Homo sapiens: one gene and its partners. The protein of the gene in region 3 interacts with the protein of the main gene of each other region in a biochemical or structural test. Each region holds a gene or a part of one and is shown on either strand. Other genes may lie near its edges.

What was found.
Region 1: the proteins of EPS8 (region 3) and ITGB2 form a complex in vitro, tested with the Homo sapiens proteins (one study listed by IntAct).
Region 2: the proteins of EPS8 (region 3) and NR5A1 interact in a surface display test, tested with the Homo sapiens proteins (one large-scale study listed by IntAct).

Annotation. Positions count from the first base shown.
Region 1 is NC_000021.9:44,893,400-44,897,050, reverse strand, and holds part of ITGB2 (integrin beta-2 isoform 1 precursor), read left to right. Parts: intron 1-1,990; coding exon 1,991-2,080; intron 2,081-3,506; coding exon 3,507-3,647; intron 3,648-3,651.
Region 2 is NC_000009.12:124,500,880-124,504,530, reverse strand, and holds part of NR5A1 (steroidogenic factor 1), read left to right. Parts: intron 1-1,120; 5' UTR 1,121-1,135; coding exon 1,136-1,237; intron 1,238-1,310; coding exon 1,311-1,452; intron 1,453-3,651. UniProt on the Homo sapiens protein: Transcriptional activator. Essential for sexual differentiation and formation of the primary steroidogenic tissues. Binds to the Ad4 site found in the promoter region of steroidogenic P450 genes such as CYP11A, CYP11B and CYP21B.
Region 3 is NC_000012.12:15,619,634-15,622,662, forward strand, and holds the end of EPS8 (epidermal growth factor receptor kinase substrate 8), read right to left. Parts: intron 1,798-3,029; coding exon 1,684-1,797; 3' UTR 501-1,683; downstream 1-500. UniProt on the Homo sapiens protein: Signaling adapter that controls various cellular protrusions by regulating actin cytoskeleton dynamics and architecture. Depending on its association with other signal transducers, can regulate different processes.

The DNA of each region.
Region 1 (3,651 bases), on a different chromosome or scaffold from region 3:
TCAGCGCAGGGCAGGGCTGGGGCCGGACATCCACAGAGACCACCTGCTGGTCAGGATGTCACAGCCCTGTGTCCCATCTGTAGGTGGCCATGACGGTCCCCTCCTCACCAGCAGTAGCAGGTCCCAATCCTTTGCCATTTGTCATGGCAGCCAGACTCCAGGCGATGGTGTGGCACCAGGGCCAGGCACTGGAGGCAGGTAGAGTGCACCCCATGCCTACTGCTGAGCCTTGGGGCACACAAGCCTTCCTCAGCCTTTCCTGGTCACCTTCGGGGGTGGTCAAGGCAACAGGCAGCGAGTGTGGACACACGTGCCACGCCCCCTCCGAGTGTGTTTCTGCACCAAGCGCACAGCAGGCTCAGCAGGACAGGATGTGGGAGGGCCCAGCTCTCCCAAGACAGGGATGGCCCCAGACTGGGACGGATGGAAGTGGGCGGTGGGCGGAGGGCGCAGAGGAGGGTGGTGGCCAGGCTGTGACCGGCCCCAGGAGCTCCATGGAAGGGACTGGGCCCATGCAGGGCAGTCATGGGAGGGTTTGGGCGGGGAGGTGACCCGACCATCTGCTCCGTGTTCCTGGAAGGTGAAATGATGCCGCAATCTTCCATGAAAGAAGCTGAGCATGTGTGAGCATGGGGGAGGCTGGCTGCGCCCCTGTGCATCTGGCCGGCCAGAACCGATGTCACCGGGCTGTTTAACACCCATGGAAACTCAGTAGAGTGCCAAGAGCCGATGGCTTCCTGGTGATTTTACTGTGATCCACCCTCGTGGGGCTACTTCCGCCTACCATCTGTGTGGTGGTAGGAATTCCCTACCTGTGTGGTGGAAATTCTGGCCAACACTGGCCACCATGCACGTCCTCCCAACCCAGTGATATTGCGAGCTTGAAATCCACCAGGCAGGATCACTCACACCACAGGCAGGAGTACTCACACCACAGGCGGGAGCAGTCACACCGCAGGCAGGATCACTCACACTGCAGGCGGGATCACTCACACCGCAGGCGGGAGCACTCACACCGCAGGCGGGATCACTCACACCGCAGGCAGGAGGACTCACACGGGCAGGCCTGGACAATGCTGCAGCTCAGGGCTTTGCTTTCTTTTCTTATCCTCATGATGCAACAGTAATTTTTTTTTTATTTTTTATTTATTTTATTTTATTTTATTTATTTTTTTATTTCATTTCATTTCATTTCATTTCATTTCATTTTATTTTATTGAGACAGAGTTTTGCTCTTGTTGCCCAGGCTGGAGTGCCATGGTGTGATCTCAGCTCATTGCGACCTCCGCCTCCTGGGTTCTCCTGCCTCAGTCTCCTGAGTAGCTGGGCTTACAGGTGCCCACCACCACGCCCAGCTAATTTTTGTATTTTTAGTAGAGACGGGGTTTCACCATGTTGGCCAGGCTGGTCTCAAACTCCTGACCTCAGTGATCCACCCACTTTGGCCTCCCAAAGTGCTGGGATCACAGGCGTGAGCCATCATGCCTGGCCTGGGTTTTTTTTGTTTTGTTTTGTTTTTTTGAGACAAGGTCTTGCTCTGTCGCCCAGGCTGGAGTGCAGTGGTGCGATCTCAGCTCACTGCAACCTCCACCTCCTGGGTTTAAGTGATCCTCCTGCCTCAGCCTCCCGAGTATCTGGTACTACAGGCATGTGACGCCACACCACTCTAATATTTGTACTTTTTGTAGAGATGGGGTCTTCTTATGTTGCCCAGGCTGGTCCTGAACTCCTGGGCTCAGGCAATCTTCCCACATCGGCCTCCCGAGTACTGGTATTCCAGGCGTGGCCCCTGGGCAGCTCAGGGCTTTTTACCCCCAAGAACCTCTTACCACACATCACTGACCACACACTCTGGGGACCAAGTGCAAAACTGCGTTGAGGACCGTCCCAGCCATTTTGCAGGTGCAGAAGCCCCTGGGGTGAGCCCAGTGCGTGGAGATGCCGTGGCACAGGTCCTAGCCGTGCCATGTCTGGTCTTCTTGCCCAACAGAAACTCACCGAGATCATCCCCAAGTCAGCCGTGGGGGAGCTGTCTGAGGACTCCAGCAATGTGGTCCATCTCATTAAGAATGCTTACAATGTGAGTCTCCCGCACCACTCAGCTGGGACCCATGGGGTGGCCAGCAATCTCCCCACTGCAGGTCAGCTCCTGCTGCAGGTCAGCAGGAGGGTGGTCTGGGAGGAAAGCCCCTGCCCCGTGGGCCAGCTGCAGCCTCCCGACCTGCCCTCAGGCCTCCAGGACACCCTGGCCCGGCACTTCCACGGGGAGCTCTGGGTCCTCTCTCGTTGATGTTGTGGGCGATGCTCCCTGAAACCTGAGCTCCGGACTCTTCATTCCAGACTCTTCTCTGCGGGTCTCTATGGAGAAGGGAGGTGGACAGCTCTGGTGGCAAACAGTGCAGCTGGGGCAGGAGGAGGCCACAGGAAACCCCCACAGTGGACTTGGGCCCTGGGAAGACACCCTGGGGGGTGGAATTCCTCTTGCTCTGTTCACCTGTCCTGGGCAAGCTCCAGAGAAGCCCTTAACCCCTGAATTTCTCCCTGGTGCACGGCCCATCGAGCTGCACCCTGGGCTGCTCCCCTGGGGAGCCCATGGCCCTGGTGGGCATAGGTAGGCATAGGTGCGCACTAGGTGCCATTCAGGGCCCCAGGCACCAGAGGTCCCGACTGCTCTGGAAATCTACCCCCAGGTGAGAGATGTTCTCAGAATTCTGGCCTGGATCCTTCTAGGCCAAAGGTCCTGCTGGCTTGAGGGAGCTCAGCACGTTAGCGCCTCCGACAAACGTTGGGTCATTGAATTAAACTGAAGGCCCGTGGAGGAGGTGCCATTTGCTTCTCGTAGCCTCCCGTGAGCCCCAAACCCCCAGAGCAGACCCTCCTGGGTGCCAGCCACTGCCCGAGGTGTTTCTGTCCTTACACAGAGGATGCAGGTGACGCCACTGCCCTGGCCATTCACCCGATGCCCCTATGAACCTGTCCCTCTGCCTCCTCTCAATTTCCGTCTGTCTCTCAGTCTTTGTCTCTCTTTCTCTGTCTCTCTCTGTCTGTCTCTCTCTGTCTCTGCCCCATCTCTGTCTGTCTCTGTCTCTGCCTCTCTCTGTTTCTCTCCATCTCTCTGTCTCTGGCTCTGGCTCTGCCCATCTCTGTCTGTCTCTGCCTCTCTCTGTTTCTCCCCATCTCTCTTATCGCTTGAACAATTTATGCAGCTCCTGCCCTGTGCTAGGTCCTGGGGACTCAAGGCTGAGGAGCAGCAGAAGCTCCCACCCCTGAGGCTCACACCCTGGCTCCATGCTAGTCCCTGTGGTCAGGCTGTCTCGAGGGCAGGACTGTGGCCCTGGCAGCCCTGCCATCCTCAGCACATCCTGCTGTGCTCTCCTCTGTGTCATTAGCTGACACTGGGGACTTGCACTGAGAGGAGAAGTGGAGACGGGTCTAAACCGCTGGGCCAGGCAGGGCCAGGACAACAGAAACACTCGCCCCCAAGAGTAACCGCTCTCTGCCCGCAGAAACTCTCCTCCAGGGTCTTCCTGGATCACAACGCCCTCCCCGACACCCTGAAAGTCACCTACGACTCCTTCTGCAGCAATGGAGTGACGCACAGGAACCAGCCCAGAGGTGACTGTGATGGCGTGCAGATCAATGTCCCGGTGA
Region 2 (3,651 bases), on a different chromosome or scaffold from region 3:
CGAGGTCTCCCCGCCCGACGTCCCGGTGGCAGCGGCGGCTCGGGCTGCGCCTCCCGTTGCCGTCGCTGCTGCGGCTTTGTCTCCCCCGGGGAGGGGGTCCCGGCGGCTCTGCGTTTTCGGGCTCTCGGTCCCGGCGCCGTCGTTTTCCGCCTCCTGCGGCCCGGGCCCCCGTCTGGGTCCGACCCTGCGGGGCCTCGCCTTGGCGCTTGGGCTCCTGCCCGGCAGGTTTCCGCGCGTCCCCTGTCCCCGACCCTCGGGCTGGGCGCTTCCGCCTCCAGGTTTTCTCTCCGTGTTTCTGTAGCTCCCCGGCCTCGTCTCTCCGGGGCTCCTCTCGTCTCGGCGTCTCTGTCTGTCGTCTATCGTTGTGTCTCTGGCTCTGCGTCAGTCTCTCTTGGGTTTTCTCTTCGGGCCTCCGCTGTCTCTCCGAGTCTCTGATCCAATCCCCCACCCCTCGTTTCTCTCTCTCTCTCTCTCTCTCGTCTCTCTCTCTCTCTCTCTCTCTCTCTGTCTCCCTGTCTCTCTCCATCCCTCCCTGTGTCTCGTCCCCGCCGGGTTCTCTCTAGCTGGGCGTCTCAGTGTCTGTGTCTCTGGCACTCTCGGACTGGCCTCGTGTCTGCGCCCGGTGGCGTCGGTCGTTGTCTCTCGCCAGAGTTTCTTCCCATCTCTGGCTCCCCCGGACTCTGTCTCTGCCTCCTTCGTCTCTGTCGGGTTCCCAGAACACCCGGGCCGGGCGCCCCAGCGCTCCTGGGTCCCCTGGCGTCTTCCCCGCGGCTGAGCCCATCTCTTTTTCTCAGAATCGGGGTTTTGTTCTCAGACAAACGAATCCCAATCGAAGCGCATCGAACCCGAGGGCCCCAGATCGGGCGCGACGGGGTCCGCGCGGGAGGAGCCCCCCGGACGGGGCGGGAGCGTGGGGCCTGGCAGGGGAAGGCCGGGCGCGGGGACTGCACCGGACCCACCCCGGGACGCTGCGCGGGGCGCTCGGTGGGTGCCGGCGGCAGCGCCTGGGCACAGAGAGGGGATTACGCGACGGGCCGGCGACAGCGGCTGGGGCGGCGGCCGCGGGGACCCCAGGCTGCCGGTCTCCGCCGGCCCTCCCTGACCCGCTGTCCCTCCGCAGGCGGACGCCGCGGGCATGGACTATTCGTACGACGAGGACCTGGACGAGCTGTGCCCCGTGTGCGGGGACAAGGTGTCCGGCTACCACTACGGACTGCTCACGTGTGAGAGCTGCAAGGTGAGCGGCGAGCGCGCGGCAGGGGTGCGGCAGACGGGCGCTGCGGGGCCTCGCTGACTCTCAGCTCCCGCAGGGCTTCTTCAAGCGCACGGTGCAGAACAACAAGCACTACACGTGCACCGAGAGCCAGAGCTGCAAGATCGACAAGACGCAGCGCAAGCGCTGTCCCTTCTGCCGCTTCCAGAAATGCCTGACGGTGGGGATGCGCCTGGAAGGTGCGCGCCGCGCGGGCCTCGACCCCTGACCCCCCACAGCCTGAGGGGGTAGGGGGTGGGGGTGGGAGAGGGGCTGAGGGGATAGTACCATTGGCCTTCGCGAAGGCCCCTCGTGCGACATTAGGGCCCAGTCGCTGCAAGAGAACCGGGCGCTGGCGCTGGGTGGGCCTCGGGCGGGGAAGGGACGCTGGCAAGGCCAGCCTGGGTTGGGCTGAGAAGTATCCAAAAGTGAACCCTATGGAGATGACTCTTTCCCCAGCCCCTGCCAGGGCCCCAGCACAGGGTCGGCAGAGCTCCTCCCTCTGTGAGGAGGTCCCCATGCCCCCAAAATACCCAACCCCAGCCAGCAGAGGCCAAGTCCCAGTGCCCGCACTGTCAGTCAGGCTGGGTGACATTGGGCAAAATCCTTAACCTCTCTAAACCGCAGATTTCCCATGTGAAACATGGGCTTGGCCGGATGGAGCGGCTCATGCCTGTAATTCCAGCATTTGGGAGGCTGAGGCAAGAGGATCACTTGAGCCCAGAAGTTTAAGACCAGCCTGGGCAACATGGAGAAACCTTGTATCTATAAAATATAAAAAAGTAGCTGGGCGTGGTGACATGTGCCTGTAGTCCTAGCTACTCAGGAGGCTGAGGTGGGGGGATCACTTGAGCCTGGAAAGTCGAGGCTGCAGTGAGCTATGATCACACCACTCCACTCCAGCCTGGGCGAGAGGGAAACCCTGTCTCAAAAAATAAGTACATAAAAATAAAAAAGAAAGAAAAGAAAAGGCAGAAAGAGAAAGAAAGAAAAGAAAAATGGGCTTAACGGCAGCGCCTTCCTCCAGTGAGTGAGTGTGGGGATCGGTGCAGGCAAGCTGAAGGTGCCTAGGCGTTCATTGCCGCAGGTTAGCTGTCAAGCCCATCACGCTTTCCATTAGGATCTGCCCACCACCACCGCCCAGCCCCCACACATTCAGCTGCCCATCTGCTTGTCTGTCCGTCCATCCAAAGGGCTCTCTGGTTTATTGGCTCAGCCAGTGAGATTCCTTCCCGTCATGTTCTTAGCCAGGCCCTGAGGGGGCCGGGCAGTGGGGGACAATTGAATTGCCCCCAAGAAACCCAGGCCCCTCTTTGCCTCCCTACCCTCAACCCCAGCTCTCAGCCCAGAGAGGAGGAGGTAAGTTTTGGCAGGAAAGATTTGAGCTTCTGGAGGTGGCCGGTCACTGGACTGTGTGCTGAACAGGCAGTGGTTGATTAAGGTCTTGGAACAGTGTAGAAAGCCCCAGGTGGCTCTGAGAGTGGTGGACCACATGCCCTGCCACCTGGAGAAAGGACTCCTGGATGGGAGAGGGGACATCCTGTCCTGTCCCCAGAGCCCATGCCCCTAGTGCCAGGTCCCAAGGGGCCAGATAGCTGGCTGTTGTGGGCAGTAGAAACTCCCGTGCAGCCTGCGAGCAGCACAGCGCTGCCCACCCCAGGGGGCAGGAAGATTGGCCAGGCAGCCCCCCAGCCATCATCCCTGCTGAGCACCACCACCCCCTCTCTCCTGCTCTTTCCCCTCGCCCAGATCCCAGGGTGGGGCCCTGTCTGAGCAGGGGCGGGGGGCACACTCCAGCTGCAGAGATGTACCTGTTGGGTCTGGCTGATGACACATTCCTCGCCAGGCGGAGGAGCTTCTAGTCGGCAAGAGAGGTCCCCTCCCCCAGCATAGAGCCTTGGCCAGCTCTAAACTTGGCTTCACATTCGCAGCCAGTGAAGGATACTTGAGTCATTTTGAAGCAGGAGCTCAACAGTCAGGCAGTCAGTCAACAAACAGCTGGACCCTGGGGCCAGCGGTGAACAAGGCTGACCAGGGTCCCCTTCCGGTCACCATCTCCCTGCCAGGCCTTATGCTAGACACCTGAGCCCAGAACTTAGCCCGCAGGAGCACATGGCATGATCCACTCAGCATGATAAGAGTGGGCAAGGACAGGGCACCTGGGGCAAGGACAGTAGAGCCCGTTTGCATGAATCCAGGAGTGCTTCCTGGAAGTAGTGACATTGAGGCTGGGTGTTCAGCAAGCACAAGAGAAAAAAAAAAGTTTGAGTCAGAAGGAAAATGAAAGGCAGGGTGGAGGAGGAAGGAGATGTGTCAAACAGAGGAGTGGAGGTGAGTTCGGTGGAGTGGAAGGAGAGGGGTCTTAGCAGGGATTGCCTGAAAAGCTGAGCAGGGCCTTG
Region 3 (3,029 bases):
CTTTCAATAAAGGCTAAATTATACATATGTATCAGTCCTTATGAAATGTAAAAGATCTAAACTAATTCACCTTTATCATGCTCATGTTTGTTCCACTTTATCCAAAGGGCAGTGTTATAGAGAGACCGAGAGATAGAAGATGAGAAACTCCCACATCCTTCAGGATCTGGGGAAAATTAGCTTCTAGGAAGCTAAATCTCCTCATCTGTAATAATTCATATAGAGTTGTTGTAAATATCCAGGAAAGCATTTATATGGAAGCATTTAGCAATCGTAAGCGCAGTGTAAATTAGTTCCATTACCATTACCAAATATGACTAGATGGTAGAAGGAAAAGATGATGAAACAAGAGGCGAAAAGAAGAAAAACAACCGAAAAAAGTATTCTAGAGTTTCTCTACCCACTCAGAAATAGAATAATATATAGTTTTTTTAAAATGTGGATCTCTACTTTTTCCCATTGCATTCAACTCGAATCCTCAGCCGATCTAGCACAGATCCTTTTTGCTAATGAGACAGAAACCATTTATTAACAGACAGCAAATACTGTTTATTGCAGACTTTCCAGCTGACTCATGTGAAAAAGGCACTATGAAAATTAATGAATCTAGATAATTTCTCTAAATGATTTATGTTAAAATATACAACATTCTTACATAACATCTGTTTTATATATGTGAAATAATATAACATTTAATGACAAAAATTGTGTTTCCAAAAATAACATTTGTTGAAGGTTAGGTATCTTTCTTTTCTCTATGTGGAATCTTTCACAGGATTAAAATATGTGTAAATTAAGTGCTTCTTATTACCAGAAATACTTGACACAGATAAACACATAAAATGGCCCCACTTCCTTTTAACTACTCATATCAACATTCAGAACTGAGGCTTTCATTAAGCAAAATACTGTAATGCACACCAATGCAGACTACTTCCTTTGCTAGATTTTGAGAAGACATGACCTCTTTCGCATTTGTGCTTTCTCATATATAAGAACACAGTATACATAATAAGCAGAATATAAACTAAATCAAAATACAAGCTATACAAGGAGTTGCAATCAACAGAGCCATGACAAACTCTCTTGAGAATGCTCCATAGATTTATATTTGCATGTCCAAGGTATGGCTGTACTTTACAGTTCATTCAAATGTTTTAATTTTTTTTTAAACTGTTGGCATTAAGAACTTTAAATAAATCTAAATATTCTTCCATTGAGTATGTCAGAGAAGAGACTTAAGTAAGCAGAGGCTAGCCTACAGTGAGCTATGCCCTGAATGACAGACACCATATTCACAGGCAAAATCGAAACTGCTTAGATTTTGAATCATGGACAACATTGTTGCTTTGTTGCAGTGAATAACTCCACCACTATCAAAACAATTCCTGTTTATACCCTGGGATGGGGATAAAATAATTAGTCTAATTAAGGAAACTTCACCTTGGTAAAGTAAGAAAAATATTTTCCAAGGTCAAAAAATTCAGTTTAAATTTTTTCAGTTTTAATAAAAATAATGGGCCTAGAAGCAAATCCTGTGCTCACTCAGGTTTGCATGGGTTTTTTTTTATGGTGATAAATTACATCAAGAAAAATGAATCTGACATTCCCTTCAAGGCTTCTTAAAACAAAGCATGTTGGAATAATGCCAAAAACAATGGAGTTTAAATACAAACAAACAAATTAGTGACTGCTTCCTTCATCAAAAGATTCCACTCCTGAATCACTAGCGGCAGCACTGATTTTTTCCTGTCGTCTTCTCATAATTTCTTGTAACTCGGAGCTGCCACTGCTATCCTGAAAGATAAACAGTTCAGACAAGATAGTTACTGACTTGTGCAGGCTGCAGGTCATATCATGAAATGGCTCAGGATAAAATTCTACTGTGGTTTTCTTCTAGTATCTCTTTAGGAAAGCTAACAGCTCTACTTTTTAAGTGAAGCTTCTGCACTTCACTAATATATCACATTAATAATTTTTCATTTTGTAAAGTCTGTTAAGGCAATTCACTCACCAGGCCTTTCATTTGAACATGATAAAGATAAATCAATAATGTATGTATAGTACTCTAGGTTTGCTGAGAGAAAGAGGAAATGTGTACAATAAGCATAATAACATGGTAAATTATCAAAGGACTCTTTTGGGCTCAAACAAGATACTGATCTGCCTTTAGAAGATTTTAACTCAGGCCAGAGTGGGCTCAGAATTCACCCAGTTTCCCCTCCATATAGTTCTGACCCTCCGACCATGCTGGCTTTTCTCCTTTCCCATCAACAGAAGTCTCTGGCAACACAGGCAAATAATCTAAAAGATTAACTAGATCCAAGGAAAGGGTGAGGTGGTAGAAGGTGGCTGAGGAACATGAAGAACCTCAGGTAGTCAGCCTCTGCCTCAGTTCCCATGCAGAGAATAGGAAGAGAACAAGAAGCAAGAGACCATCCTGAAGTGGGTGGTGACAGCAAATGACAATAATGATAGGCAGGTGTGGGATGAAGGAATTCAGAATTTTAGGAATATGGCATTTTCTAACATACCTTGAAGAAGTAATTATATACTCTCAACAAAATTAAATATAGTGGTAATAAAACTGCTTGAGAAAAATATATAATCCTTATTAATATTCAACATATGGAAAGCAATCAAATCAAACTTTAATATGGAGCCTTCAAGATCAATGTTGTAGGGAAAACCTCCAAGGGAAATATGGTTTCTCTTGATTCAGAATGGCTACGGGGTGATACGCATGAAGTGATTTTACCCTGAATTATTTAACTGTTGAATTTATAGAATATACCTGCTAGAGATGATTATGGATCAATTTCATGCCAAAGCCTACATTCTTTCATTTGAGTCCAAGTATAATTTTCATGAAACTATTAAGAGCTGTGAGATGTAACAGTTGGAAACTACTACCCGTATATAGCACATTTTAAGTCTAAAATAGGATATTGGAAGCTTAAGTATAAAGCAATCTAGAAAACATGACTCTCCTGCTTTCATACAGACCATTGTGATTAAATACTTTTCCA